Homo sapiens: one gene and its partner. The protein of the gene in region 1 interacts with the protein of each later gene in a pairwise test. Each region holds a gene or a part of one and is shown in the gene's direction. Other genes may lie near its edges.

Region 1 (7,041 bases):
CAAGCACCCATTATGTTATGTTAACATTTCTTCAGAGGAACTCTCCAAAGAGGGAGATATGTGTTGAGTTAATTCATTCATTTGCCTTTGCACAGAAATACTCCTCATTAATTGTTGATAAATTTTGACACTTGCAGAAAAAAAGTTTGCTCTGGATTTAATATTGGCATAATTCCTTCCTCGCTATAAAGAGCTGTTTGTTTACTCCTATTACTAACTAAAGAGAACATGGTTAAGTGAAGACCTCATAAAGTTTTTCTTTTTTTTCTTTTTTAAAGCCCAGTGGCAAGCACTCTAAAATTTAGCAAAGAAAGAAAACCCTAGTGAATCATCTTATTTGCTGTTTCACCTCTCTACTTCTAGACTTACAGACAATTAAGTGAATTACCAAGTAGGAACTCTTTGTTGATCATAAAACCAGTATCATAGATTTTAAAACTTCGAAGCCATACATGGTAGTGTGTGCCTGTAGTTTTAGCTCCCTGGGAGGCTGAGGCAGGAAAAATCAGTTTTGCCCAGGAGTTTGAGGCTGTAGTGTCCTGTCATAGTGCCTGTGAATAGCCACTGCATTCTAGCCTGGGCAATATAGCAAGACCACGTTTAAAATAATAATATTAATAATAATAATAATGATAATAGAACTTTAAAAACTGTCAAGGTAAGCCTTGGGAACTTTAATTGCAAATGACCTGTGAAAAATATTTAACAGTTAAGCTATTGGTGCCTTCATTCTCCAGTCTTCACTGGAGATTAAGAACACTGTGATACTAGTTGTATGGTATGGTTCATGGAAATTTCAGTTTTGCTGTTGTCTTGTGTAGGCAACTCTTTCTGTCTTTGGATGGAATCCATTCTGCACTGGCAGGAAGACCATCTTTCAGACCTGGCATAGTGTAGTAACCATGGTCTCTTCCCAACACTGACTCTGCACTGTTCTCCCACAATTAATTTCTTTCTTTCTTTCTTTCTTTCTTTCTTTCTTTCTTTCTTTCTTTCTTTCTTTCTTTCTTTCTCTCTCTCTCTCTCTTTCCTTTCTTTTCTTTTCTTTTCTTTTCTTTTCTTTTCTTTTCTTTTCTTTCTTTTTTCAAGAGATGGAGTCTCTCTGTGTTTCCCAGGCTGGTCTTGAACTGCTGGCCTCAGGCGATCCTCCTGCTTCCCAAAGTGCAGGGATTACAGACATAATCAGGCTTTCTATTTTCTTAAGCAAATTTACAACTTCAGGAGTAAAGAAACAGGACCACAGTCTATTTGCAGTTAAATAACTTAGGTAACTTAGATAAAAGAGATTGTGGTGTAGAAACATACTGTTTTGAGAGACTTGGGTTCTAGTGCAGGTATTGTTACTAACTGGCTAGTTGACTTCTGGCAAGATTTCTGGGCATTATAAATGAATAACATGGATAGACTCATTTCCTCTGGTTCATAATACCAGAGTGCCACTTATAACCTGGCTGCCTTGGCTTCCATTTATATATTTATTTAATATTATTTAATTCATTTAAATAAATACATTTTACATTAGTTTATTTAAATAGGTAGATAGATTGTCAGTCTTGCTCTATTGCAGTGGTGAGATCATAGCTCACTGCAGCCTTGACCTCCTGGACTCAAGCAATTCCCCTGCCTTGGCATCCCAAGTAGTTGGGATGACAGGCACGCATGTCATTCCATGGAATTAGCCATGCCCGGCTAGTTATTTTTAATTTTTTTTTGTAGAGACAGGGGCCCCCTTTGTTGTCCAGGCTGGTCTTGAGCTCTTGGGGTCAAGCTATCCTGCCTCAGCCCCCACAAAGTGCTGGGACTACAGGTGTAAGCCACCCTGCCTGGCGGCTTTCTATTGTCTATTTTCTTTCTTTCTTCTTTTTTTTTTTTTTTTTTTTTGTTATATTGAGACAGAGTCTCGCTCTGTCGCCCAGGCTGGAGTGCAGTGGTGCAATCTCTGCTCACTGCAAGCTCCGCCTCCCGGGTTCACACTGTTCTCCTGCCTCAACCTCCTGAGTAGCTGGGACTACAGGCGCCTGCCACCATGCCCGGCTGATTTTTTGTATTATTTTAGTAGAGACGGGATTTCACCATCTTAGCCAGGATGGTCTCGATCTGCTGACCTCGTGATCCGCCGGCCTCGGCCTCCCAAAGTGCTAGGATTACAAGCGTGAGCCACTGCGCCCGGCCTTTTTTTTTTTTTTTTTGAGATGGAGTTTCATTCTTGTTGCCCAGGCCGGAGTGCAATGGTGTGATCTCTGCTCACCGCAACCTCCACCTCCTGGGTTCCCCCGATTCTCCTGCCTCAGCCAGCCAAGTAGCTGGGATAACAGGCAAGCGGCACCATGCCTGGCTAATTTTTATATTTTTAGTACAGGCAGGGTTTCTCTATGTTGGTCAGGCTGGTCTCGACTTCCTGACCTCAGGTGATCCTCCCACCTCCACCTCCCAAAGTGCTGGGATACAGGTGTGAACCACCGTGCCTGGCCGGGCTTTCTATTTTCTTGCCATTTTTTTTTTTTTTTTTGAGACAGAGTCTTGCTCTGTCACCCAGGCAGGAGTGCAATGGCGCGATCTTGGCTCACTGCAACCCCCCACCTCCCAGGTTCGAGCAATTCTCCTGCCTCAGTCTCCTGAGTAGCTGGGACTACAGGCGCGCGCAACCATGGTTGCCCGGCTAATTATTTTTTTTTAATTTTTACTAGAGATGGGGTTTTACCACGTTGGCCAGGCTGGTCTCGAGCTCCTGACCTCAGTTGATGCGCCCGCTTCGGCCTCCCAAAGTGCTGGGATTACAGGGGTGAGCCACCATGGTTGACCTCAGGCTATTTTCTTAAGCAAATTTGCAACTTAAGAAGTAAAGAAATAGGACCAGAAGTTGTTTAAAGTTCACAGTGGGTACCTCTAAATCTATTAGTTATCTATTAGTGATTGTATAATTTATACTATATAAATTGTATAATTCTACAAAACAGGATGCTCTTTGAGAGAGAGAATTGTATTGAAATAACAGACTTAAATCAGGTCTATCCTGCTCAAACTTGGATTTACTGTTACTCTGTTAATGAGGTAAAGGAATTCCATCCACAGAATTTTGCCAGGAAGTTTATTACTACAGTTAGAAACATAGGAAACACAGGGGAGAATATTTCAGGACAGAAATTATGAATTTTCTCTACATTACAACCTGCACATCTAAGTGAACCAGATTCTTGATGCCTCGGCCCTTGTGAGAAATTTTCTTCCACTTTTAGGATGATTTTGATCATGTGTTGCTGTTTCTAGAAATCCAGATGAGGCACTCTTCAGCCAAAGTTGCTGCCCACCCAAGAGGCCTTTTATCTTGAAATTTAGTCATGAGACCAGAAGGAACTTCTCCCATCTGTGTCCTGACTTGGTATTAGTTTTATTTTGGATACCTCCTTTTTTTTTTTTTCTTTTTTTGAGATGGCGCCTTGCTCTCGTCGCTCAAGCTGGAGTGCAATGGAGCAATCTCATTGCAACCTCCATCTCCCGTGTTCAAGCGATTCTTCTGCTTCAGCCTTCCGAGTAGCTAGGATTACAGGCGCTCGCCACCATGCCTGCATAATTTTTGTTTTTGTTTTTGTTTTGAGATGGAGTCTCGCTTTGCCACCCAGGCTGGACTGCAGTGGCACAATCTCGGCTCACTGCAAGCTCCGCCTCCCGGGTTCACGCCATTCTCCTGCCTCAGCCTCCCGAGTAGCTGGGACTACAGGCGCCCGCCACCTTGCCCGGCTAATTTTTTGCATTTTTAGTAGAGACGGGGTTTCACCACGTTAGCCAGGATGGTCTCGATCTCCTGACCTCGTGATCCACCCGCCTCGGCCTCCCAAAGTGCTGGGATTATAGGCGTGAGCCACTGCGCCCGGCCAATAATTTTTGTATATTTAGTAGAGATGGGGTGTCACCATGTTGGCCAGGCTGATCTTGAATTCTGGACCTCAGATGATTGACCCACCTTGGCCTCCCAAAGTGATGGGATTGCAGACATGAGCCACCACACCCGGCTTTTTTTTTTTTTTAAGAGACCGAGTCTCACTTTGTCACCCAGGCTAGCGTAGGAGTACAGTGACACAATCATAGCTCACTGCAGCCTAGAACTCCTGGGCCCAAGGGATCCTCCTGCCTCAGCTTCTCAAGTAGCTAGGACTACAGGCATGTGCCACCATGCCTGGCAAATTATTTTATTTTTGTTTTTTAAATTTAAAAATAGAGACAGTATCTTGCCATGTTGCCTAGGCTGGTCTCAGAACTCTTGAACTCAAGCTATTTTTATTTTTTTTTTGAGACAGGGTCTCACTATATTGCCCAGGCCCAGTCTTGAATTCTTGGCGGCCTCAAAGGATTCCCTGCCTCAGCCTCCCAAAGTGCTGCTATTACAGGTGTGAGCCTGGCCTGGCAGATTCCTTTTTTTCCCTCTTTTAAATAATTTATTTTAAACCTATTATATCACACAGTATGTTTTATACACTGACATATAACCCCCTAACAAGATAAAGCAAAGACAAAAAAGTTTATCTTATTAGAAGGAAGATACACCATCACTTATTCTCTTCAAGCATTATTGCACTTTAACTTTTCTTAACTTGACAAAGCATTCATGAAGCAGTCTGCAGACTAGTTTTAACAGATAAATAATACCTGTAAGCAGACATGATTGTCCTAAATTGTTTATTAGGTATGAATTTTACAAACTTTACTTATATTGGCTGTAACGGTGGAGCTGGAGAGTATTGCGCCTTCTCCAAGCTCCCTGGTGAGAACCACCAATAGTGTGGTGGCACTTAAGGCCCTTTCCAAGGCTATGGCTCTTTCGGCCTGCAGATGGCAGCCCATGCATCTTCCTATGCTTGTGGACTGGTTTGGTGATCCATTGGGTGTCAGGATTTCTTCTGATAGCTTTATGGAATGGATCAATGAGGATAACCTCAAAAAACTTGTATGTGGAATCTTCACCAACCCAGTGAGAATTCAGGACTTTTAGAGCCCCACAGTGGCATCCAGCTTGCCGCTTTGCAATGGACTGAAGACTTTGAGCAAACTTTAGCTGGTTAACACCATGATGGACAGGCTTGCCATAAGTTGCACCCTTAGGAACTGGGTGCTTTCGGCCACCATGGCGAACACGAATCCTATATATAACATAAACTTGGTTGGCCTTGTAGCCCAGCTGGTGCGCTTTATCAAGCCAGATGGGGTGGGGAGCCCTGTGGAGAGCAGAGAGCTGGTGGTACTGCCAGCAACCAACTCTCAGAAGAAAGTGCATTTTCTCCATAGCTCCTGGATTTACTTGTATGCCCCCATCTTGGCTTACCTGATGGCTGCTGCTAGACAGAAGGGGCACGGATTCTTTTATTAAAATCACAATATGGGTTTATTAATCCCTTACTTGTATTTATGGTTGTTTTTTGCCTATTAAACATCAGCATTCTAGTATAATTTCCATTCTTTTACTCATAACAATATGATGTTTAAAAAATACTGATTTTTTTCTGTCTTTTTTATTCTTATTTTTCTCGAACCCTATGTTCATCATCAACCTCTTTTCTCCTACTATTTGGTTCATCAACCTTATTTTCTCCTGTTTGGTTCCTAGAAACCTCAAGTAAGCTTACTGTTGTTACCCTAATGAAATACCATTTTAAGTAAGTTATATAGAAAAAATGCATAAATATATTCTCCTTACAAAAATGAAAAACTTTGATGTCATCTTAAGATAATTTACTGAGGCCGAGCGCAGTGGCTCACACCCGTAATCCCAGCACTTTGGGAGGCTGAGGTGGGCGGATCATGAGGTCGGGAAATCGAGACCATCCTGTCTAACACGGTGAAACCCTGTCTCTACTAAAAATACAAAAAAAATTAGCTGGGCGTGGTGGCAGGCACCTGTAGTCCCAGCTACTTGGGAGGCTGAGGCAGCAGAATGGGGTGAAGCCGGGAGGCGGAGCTTGCAGTGAGCAGAGATTGCACCACTGCACTCCAGCCTGGGTGACAGAGTGAGACTCCGTCTCAAAAAAAAAAAGAAGATAATTTACTAAATCTAAACTCCTTTTAAAAATTGCTGAGGACTGCCCGGGCACGGTGGCTCATGCCTGCAATCCGAGCACTTTGGGAGGCTGAAGTAGGCAGATCACCTGAGGTCAGGAGTTCGAGACCAGCCTGGCCAACATGGTGAAACCCTCTCTCTACTAAAAATACAAAAATCAGCTGAGTGTGGTGGCTGGCACCTGTAATCCCAGCTACTTGGGAGGCTGAGGTGGGAGAATTGCTTGAACCCGGGAGGCGGAGGTTGCACTGAGCCAAGATGGTGCCATTGCATTTCAGCCTGGGCAACGAGTGAAATTCCGTCTCAAAAAGAAAAAAGGCTTAGGATGACCGGCTGTAGTGGCTCATACCTGTAATCCTAACACTCTGGGAGACCAAGGTGACCGGGGTTTGAGGACAGGAATTTGAGATCAGCCTGGGCAACATAGTGAAACCCTATCTCAATTAAAAAAAAAAATAGCTAAGGAGTGGTCCTAAATATGGCTGACATAGTTGATTTAGAGATTTACCTGTTGATTATCTTGATTTTTTTCATTTTTGTATCTAGAAGAAACTGAACATTTTTATACATATGTCTTATATCCATGTGTGCCTTTCTCTAGGGTAGATGCTGAGAAGTAGAATTGTTAGGTTATAGGGCATTTTTTAAGTTTATGAGTCACTTTTTATTTATTTATTTTTTAATGTTTTTATTTTTATTTTTTATTTTTTGAGACAGAGTCTCGCTCTGTCGCCCAGGCTGGAGTGCAGTGGCGTGATCTTGGCTCACTGCAAGCTCCACCTCCTGGGTTCATGCCATTCTCCTGCCTTAGCCTCCTGAGTAGCTGGGACTACAGGCGCCCGCCACCACACCCAGCTAATTTTTTGTATTTTTAATGGAGACGGAGTTTCACTGTGTTAGCCAGGATGGTCTCGATCTCCTGACCTCGTGATCCGCCACCTCGGCCTCCCAAAGTGCTGGGATTACAGGCGTGAGCCACCGCACTGGCCTTT
Region 2 (7,041 bases), on another chromosome or scaffold:
AGAGCAGCACGTCGCCCCTTGGTTTTAAGGAGCAGTCCCCCGAAGGCAAAGGTGCTGGCACCAGTAGCACCTCACTGCAGGAGGCGGAGCTGCCGGCCTGGGTTAGCTGAAGCCCAGCCCGGCTCTCACTAGCTTTGACCGTGGGCAAGACGCCACCTCTGGGTCGTGTTCTCAGTGGCAAAATGGAGCAGAGGGCAAGGCATGGTGGGGTGAGAGTGGTGTCGAGGGGGACAGACATGCGCCCCTCACACCTGCCCCCCCCACGGCCCAGCTGCAAGCAGCAGGTGGGACAGCGGCTCACTAGCCTGCCCTCCCCTTCCCCCACTCCTTCCAGGGGGCTCAGCACCCACAGAGACCCTCCAGCCTGGACTCCCGAGTGGGAGGGTCTGGGAGTGGGAGGAGTGGCTGAGGGTGACCCTGGACCAGAGCTCAGCTCTCTCACCCCAGCCCTGTGAAGCCCCCCATGAGCCTCAGCCCAGCCCCTCCCCGCCCCGGTAGGCTTGCTCCCCCATCACAGCCCCACTGCAGCCCCCACCCAGGCCTGGAGGAGACCCTCCTTCCGAGTTCCCCCAGCCCCAGCACCCCTAGCTGCCCTTGGCAAGCCCAACAAACCCAGAGAAGGCTGACTCGGGAAGAAAAAGCCAGCCCCACTGACCCCGCTGCTGACCCCTGGCTCAAGGCTGCGGGTGCGGGTCTGGGTGAATTTCTACAATCCTGGTTCATTTCTTCTCCCCAAAAGCACCAAGGCTTGCAACTTCCCTCCACCTCCCATCCCTTCCCCGGAGCTCTCCAGCACTCTAGGAGTGCTGCAGGTGGTTTCGGGCACAGAAAGGATCCTGTGAGTGGGAGGCACAGCAGAGGCTCCGTCCCAGCCTCTGCACCACAGTGACTTCACTGGGAAGGAAGCCCACCTCTCGTGTGGACCCCAGAGACCTCTCCCAGGCCCGCAGGCACCATGGGCTCCCTTGGGCGGCTCCTTTATGGGCGTCGGCCCAGCCCACATGGCAGATGCTGGGGGCCAGGGAAGAGTGGCCTGTTGGGCGGGTCTGGGGGGAGTTTCAGGAGCTGCAGCTCCGCCCCCTCCTGGCCCTCCTCAGCTGCTTGAGCCCAGGGAGGCCCCGGCTCTGACATCTTCCTCCCAGGGGCCCCCTTGGCCAGGAAAAGCCAGTGCAGCTGGGTGCACCAGAGCCATGGGGAGGACGCCCCAGTCCACACAGGCAGAGCATGCAGACCCACAGCCCCAGGAGCTGGGCACAACCCAGATCCCACTTCCCACTGGGTGACTGAGACGGGAGGCTTGATCTGTTTGAGCCTCAGTTTCCCCATCTGGAGCGAGGTCTTCGTGGTGTGGTCAAGATTCCGTGGGCTGTCAGGAAGGTCTCAGTGTGTACGGAGTTCGGGAAACAGGGTCAGAACCACTGATGCTGGCCACGTGACCTGCTTCCGGCAGGCTCCATGCTGTCCCCACCTCTGGAGCTCAGCGTCCTGTTGGTCCCCTTCACCAGCAAAGACATCCCTCCCAGCCTCCCACCAGGAAAGCCCCAAGTCTCCCTAGTCCCAGGATCCCTCACCCACCCAACACAGAGCCGCCAACTGTCACCCCCACTCCCTCCGAGGGTGGCTGGAGGCCCCAAAGCCCAGGCGGGTCTGTGGACTGAGCCTCTGCAGCCCAGCATCCTGGTGCTCCGCCCTCCATGCAGCCCCACTAGCCCTGTCAGGGGCCCCTGGGGACGCTGCAGCCACCCCCGAACACAGGCCACACTCTGTCCCACACCCCTTGCTGCCCCACCAGGCTCGGCACTAATGCTTGATCACAGGTGCAAGGGCTCGGCAAGAGTTAGGACACCCTCCTTCCAAGTGGCTCCAGTCACCATCCCCACCCCGGTCCCCATCCCCACCCCGGTCCCCATCCCCACCCCGGGCCCCATCCCCACTCCGGGCCCCATCCCCACCCCAGTCCCCGTCCCCACCCCAGTCGCCATCCCCACCCCAGTCCCCGTCCCCACCCCAGGCCCCATGGCCTCTCTCGGGGTCCCAAGGCCTCTCTCGGGGTCCAAGGCCTGCCACCCTCAGTTAGAGGCACCCCAGCCCCACCCCCAAAGACGCCCACCACCTGACTTCCAGGGCCCCAGGGCAAGTGCCTCTTTCTGTGTTCAATGCACCCTCAAGCCTGGCTTGGGTGGTTTGGCCACGCTGGGATGGGCATGGGGCTGGGCGGCCACCATATTCCACCCGTCATGGGATGGGGTTAGGCGGTCCTGTTCGGGACGGTTCTGTAGAATGATGTTGCACACAGGACCCTCACGTGGGCGTCTCCAGGCTGACCTTTGAGAACCCAGATGCAGCCATGGCTGTTCCGCTCTGTGATCCACTTGGGCTGGGCTGGCCGTGGCGAGGCCTTGGGCATGGCCTCCAGCTGCGAGCCCGAAGTTGGATTTTGAGCAGAGCGGTGCACATCTGAGCAGAGACCAGAGCTTCCCAGGGATGGCCACCATGGAGAGTGGTCCTGGAAGAGATGGGGGGAGGCAGGGGGTTCAGGGAAGGTTGAGCAGGAGGCCAGGCAGGGAGGAGGCCGACACAGTTGTTCAGGTGACGCACCAGTGGTTCCACAGTAGGTTGGGTATGCACACACACAGCACACACACATGCACACTGGCTTGGGCACGCACACACAGAGCAAAAACAGATGCACACACATGGCACACACACATGCACACTGGCTCGGGTGTGCACACACAGCAAACACACATGCACACTGGCTCAGGCATGCACACACATGGCACACACCCGCACACTAGCTCGGGTATGCACACACATGGCACACACACATGCACACTGCCTATCATGCACACATGCCACACACATGCACACTGGCTTGAGCATGCACACACAGCACATACACATGCACACTGGCTCTGGCACACACACATGCACACTGCCTATCATGCACACATGCCACACACATGCACACTGGCTCAGGCGTGCACACACATGGCATACACACATGCACACTGACTTGGGTGTGCACACACATGCACACTGGCTATCACACACACACAGCACACACATGCACACTGACTTGGGCATGCACACACACGGCACACACACATGCACACTGGCAATCACGCATACACGGCACACACACGCACACTCACGCACACTGACTTGGGTGTGCACACACATGGCACACACACATGCACACTGGCTCAGGTGTGCACACACATGGGACACACACTGGCTCGGGCGTGCACACACATGGCACACACACACGCACACTGGCTATCATGCACACACACGGCACACACATGCACACTGGCTCGGGCGTGCACACACACGGCAAACACACACACTCCCCCACCCGACCGCGTGAAGCACAAGCCACCCGGTGAAGAAGTCTGAACTGCAGCGGTTTGTGTGCCACAAACACTGGCTTGCAGAGGCCCAGCCACTTGACCGGTATCCCAACCTCCCAGGCCTGGAGGCCAATCTGTGGGAGGAGGGGGAAGGGTCAGGGGAGGACAGACAGACAGTCACAGCGCCCCCAGGCTCACTCCGCCCAGCCCTGCCTGGGAGCTCTCCAGGCCACTGGGAATTTGGAAAGGTCTGGGAGGGTTTGACGATGAGTGCTCCAGCCCAGGTCCCCAGGCCCAGCCTGCAAAGGCCCCACGGCCCCTTAATTCTGGCCTTAGTCCGTGAGACCACAAGATACCCACTGCCTACCAAGGACCTCCTGAGACCTGTGGGTAGGGGAGGCAGGCAGGGAGGGAGGGGGCCTGTGACCTCTTCAGAGTGGCTCCTACCTCTTCCTGGAACCTTCCAGCATCTGCGTGTGGGAGCCGCTTCCGGGCAGAGGGGGCTGCTGTGGCTGTGTGTGTTTCCGTGTACCTGCAACTGCATGTGTAGCTGTGTCTCTATGTCTGCACAGCTTTGTTGTCAGCATGTGTCTGCGTATACCCATGTCTATGTGTCTCTGTGTGTTGTGTGTGGGCATCCCTGTCTGTGTACATATGTGTTGTATGTGTGTAACTCTGGGTGTGTGCCTGTGTGTTGTGTGTATACATGCTGTGTGGTGTGTCTGTCTTTGTGCATGTGTGTTATGTGTGTACATGCTCTGTGTGTGTCTTTTGCATATATGTGCATGTGTGTTGTGTGCACATGCTATCTGTGTGTGTGTGTGTGTGTGTGTGTGTGTGTGTGTGTGTGTGTGCCTGTGGGACAGGATTGAAGCTGCCACGGCATTGGAGGGGGACAGAGATCCCAGGAGGGAACTGAGTACAGGGCTCTGGTGAGAGGGAAGGAGGTGCTGTGACAGTGGTGTTGGGGCCGGGGTGTGGACAGTGGCATGGTAGGGTCTGTGGGGCTCTTACTGGTGAGGTCTGACTCCCAGCTTCACAGCTGGGCAGGTGCCACCAGCACCATCCAGCTCTTGCCAGGCTTCCCTGTCCCTCCATTGAGGTGCCAGGGGAAGGGCTTATGTGGGGACAGGCCAGGCACTGATGGGCTGGATACCTGGGGAGAACGGGGTGGCTCAGAGGTGCCGGCACTCACCCCAGATGCTCCCTGGCCCCTCCAGCCCCTCCCGCACGGCAGCCAGCACCCTGCCCTCTGGCCCCCGGCCACATACGTGTGGGAGGAAGCCACACAATGTACTATCTCTGTGCCTGCCCGTGGGGTTCGGGAGCCTCCAGGCCACCTCCCATGAGTAGCCCCTACAGCATGGCATGGGGTCTGCTCCATACAGACACAAGGAGCCCCAATCCTCTCCTGGACTCCACAGCCCACAAGCCCTTCCTGAGCGGATCCCTGTCCCCTCTTCCTCCTCTTCAGGATGGACACAGAGGGGCAGTAGAGGCTGCAGGCGTCTCCACAACCCCAGCGCAGAGGGGCCCGGGCCAGGGCCACAGGGAGCCATGGAGAGCTTCATGGAGTCGCTGAACAGGCTGAAGGAGATCCACGAGAAGGAAGTCCTGGGTGAGGGGCCAGGGACAGATGCCAGGCTAGGGAGGGGTCTCCACAGCCCTCACCTAAGGGTCGGAGCAGGCCACTGTGCACCCATGATCACCTCCAATTCCCACCAAGTCAGGGAATGGACCCCGTCTTTTTGGCCCAGGCAGGGGAGTCCTGACCCAAGGCCCAGAGCTACAACGTGGCAGACACCCTGCCTGGGCCCGAGTGCTGACCTCAAGCGGGGATGTCCTCGAGCCACTCCCAGAGTGTGACCCCGAGGGGGAGGGGCACTTTCAAGGGTTGCCACCAACACCTCATGGCCACCTGCCACCCGCAGGCCCCATGCTGCCCATGCTTTGTTCTCCCGTGGGCCGGCCTCCAGCGTGGCAGAAAGAAGTACCCACCCTGGCCGGCCTGCTGAGCTCACCAGGGCAGAGACAGCCACTTCCAGAAACAGGAGCTTATGGCTCTCTGGACCCATCCAGAACATGTCAAGGCACTGAGCTGCAACTCTTCTCTTCCTTCTAGGACACGCCCCAGGCCCCACCCCTGTCCACTTCCCCCACGAGGGACAGGGCCGCAGCCCCCACACCACCCCCAGTCCAGTCCCAGGGCCAGCACCTCCCCGTGGTCTTTCCACTGAGCACCCACACCCACCTGGAGGTCCAAGGACCCGGCTGCCTCCTAGGCAACCCAGAGAGGTGGGGCTGCTGGGGCTAGCCAGGCCCAGGTTGGATCCCCAAGATACGGCAAGGAGAGGGTCTGGTGGGGTCCGCCCCAGAAGCTTATCTTATTTCAACACTAGCTATGACACACACACACACACAAAATGGCCCCTCGGTCCCTCTACCTTTCACAGGTGGCTGGTCACTTGTGGCACCAGGGTCCCTGCTCACCCCCAGACACCCCCAGACAGATGCCGGAGGCAGAGACCCCAGGGGAAGCAACAGATGCTAGGCCGAGACCACCGAGCCTCAGGCAGCCCCGTGCCTGGGCACAGACAGGGGCTCACCTGGCAGGGCTCCCCCAGGGGGTGCAGGGGACAGGAGTGCCACATTGCAGCTCTGCCCAGACCCCGTGGTGGGGACACTGAAGGTGAAGCAGCAGCTGGGCCTGACCCCCCGCCCCTCTGCTTGCTCCCCCAGGCCTGCAGAACAAGCTTCTGGAACTGAACTCAGAGAGGTGCCGGTGAGTCAGGCCAAGCAGGGCCCCTCCTCACAGGGACCACACTGGCCACTTCATCCCCCTGAAGCCCCAGTGTGCCAGCACTACCACCGTCCTATGGTGCAGAAGGGAAACTGAGGCTCAGTGTGGGGGCGGGGGGAGTCACTTGTCCAAGGTCACACGGTGAGCAGGCAGCGAAGCCAGCACTTGAACCCAGTTGCGTCGGCCTCCCAGGGGCGGGGCAAGCCCCCTACTCGGGGCTTCTCCCACCCCAGGATCATGATCAGAATATCAACAATACGTTCACGGTGAGCTGGGGTCATGTCTGGTCAGACACTGGCGGGCGGGCAGGCTCCCTGCGTTCTGGCTTATAGACCCGGCTATGGTCCTGCCTGTGCTGTGGCACTAAAGTGGTGCGTGGACAGGACAGACGTCACAGAGGAGCGTGCAGATGACAGGGGGGGCGGTGTGTGGACAGGACAGACGTCACAGAGGAGCGTGCAGATGACTGGGGGGGCGTTGCGTGGACAGGACAGACGTCACAGAGGAGCGTGCAGATGACTGGGGGGGCGTTGCGTGGACAGGACAGACGTGACAGAGGAGCGTGCAGATGACTGGGGGGGCGTTGCGTGGACAGGACAGACGTCACAGAGGAGCGTGCAGATGACCGGGGGGGTGGTGTGTGGACAGGACAGACGTCACAGAGGAGCGTGCAGATGACTGGGGGGGCGTTGCGTGGACAGGACAGACATCACAGAGGAGCGTGCAGATGACTGGGGGGGGTGCGTGGACGGGACAGACGTCACAGAGGAGCGTGCAGATGACTGGGGGGGGTGGTGCGTGGACGGAACAGACGTCACAGAGGAGCGTGCAGATGACTGGGGGGGCGTTGCGTGGACGGGACAGACGTCACAGAGGAGCGTGCAGATG

The links. Proteins that work in one complex are often made in the same cells at the same time.
Region 2: the proteins of LARP1B (region 1) and RBBP8NL interact in binary tests that used the Homo sapiens proteins (3 or more experiments, as listed by UniProt).

The regions. Positions count from the first base shown.
Region 1 is NC_000004.12:128,064,306-128,071,346, forward strand, and holds part of LARP1B (la-related protein 1B), read left to right. Parts: intron 1-4,393; exon of another isoform or gene 4,394-5,343; intron 5,344-7,041.
Region 2 is NC_000020.11:62,417,517-62,424,557, reverse strand, and holds part of RBBP8NL (RBBP8 N-terminal-like protein), read left to right. Parts: intron 1-4,827; 5' UTR 4,828-4,910; coding exon 4,911-4,971; intron 4,972-6,092; coding exon 6,093-6,135; intron 6,136-7,041.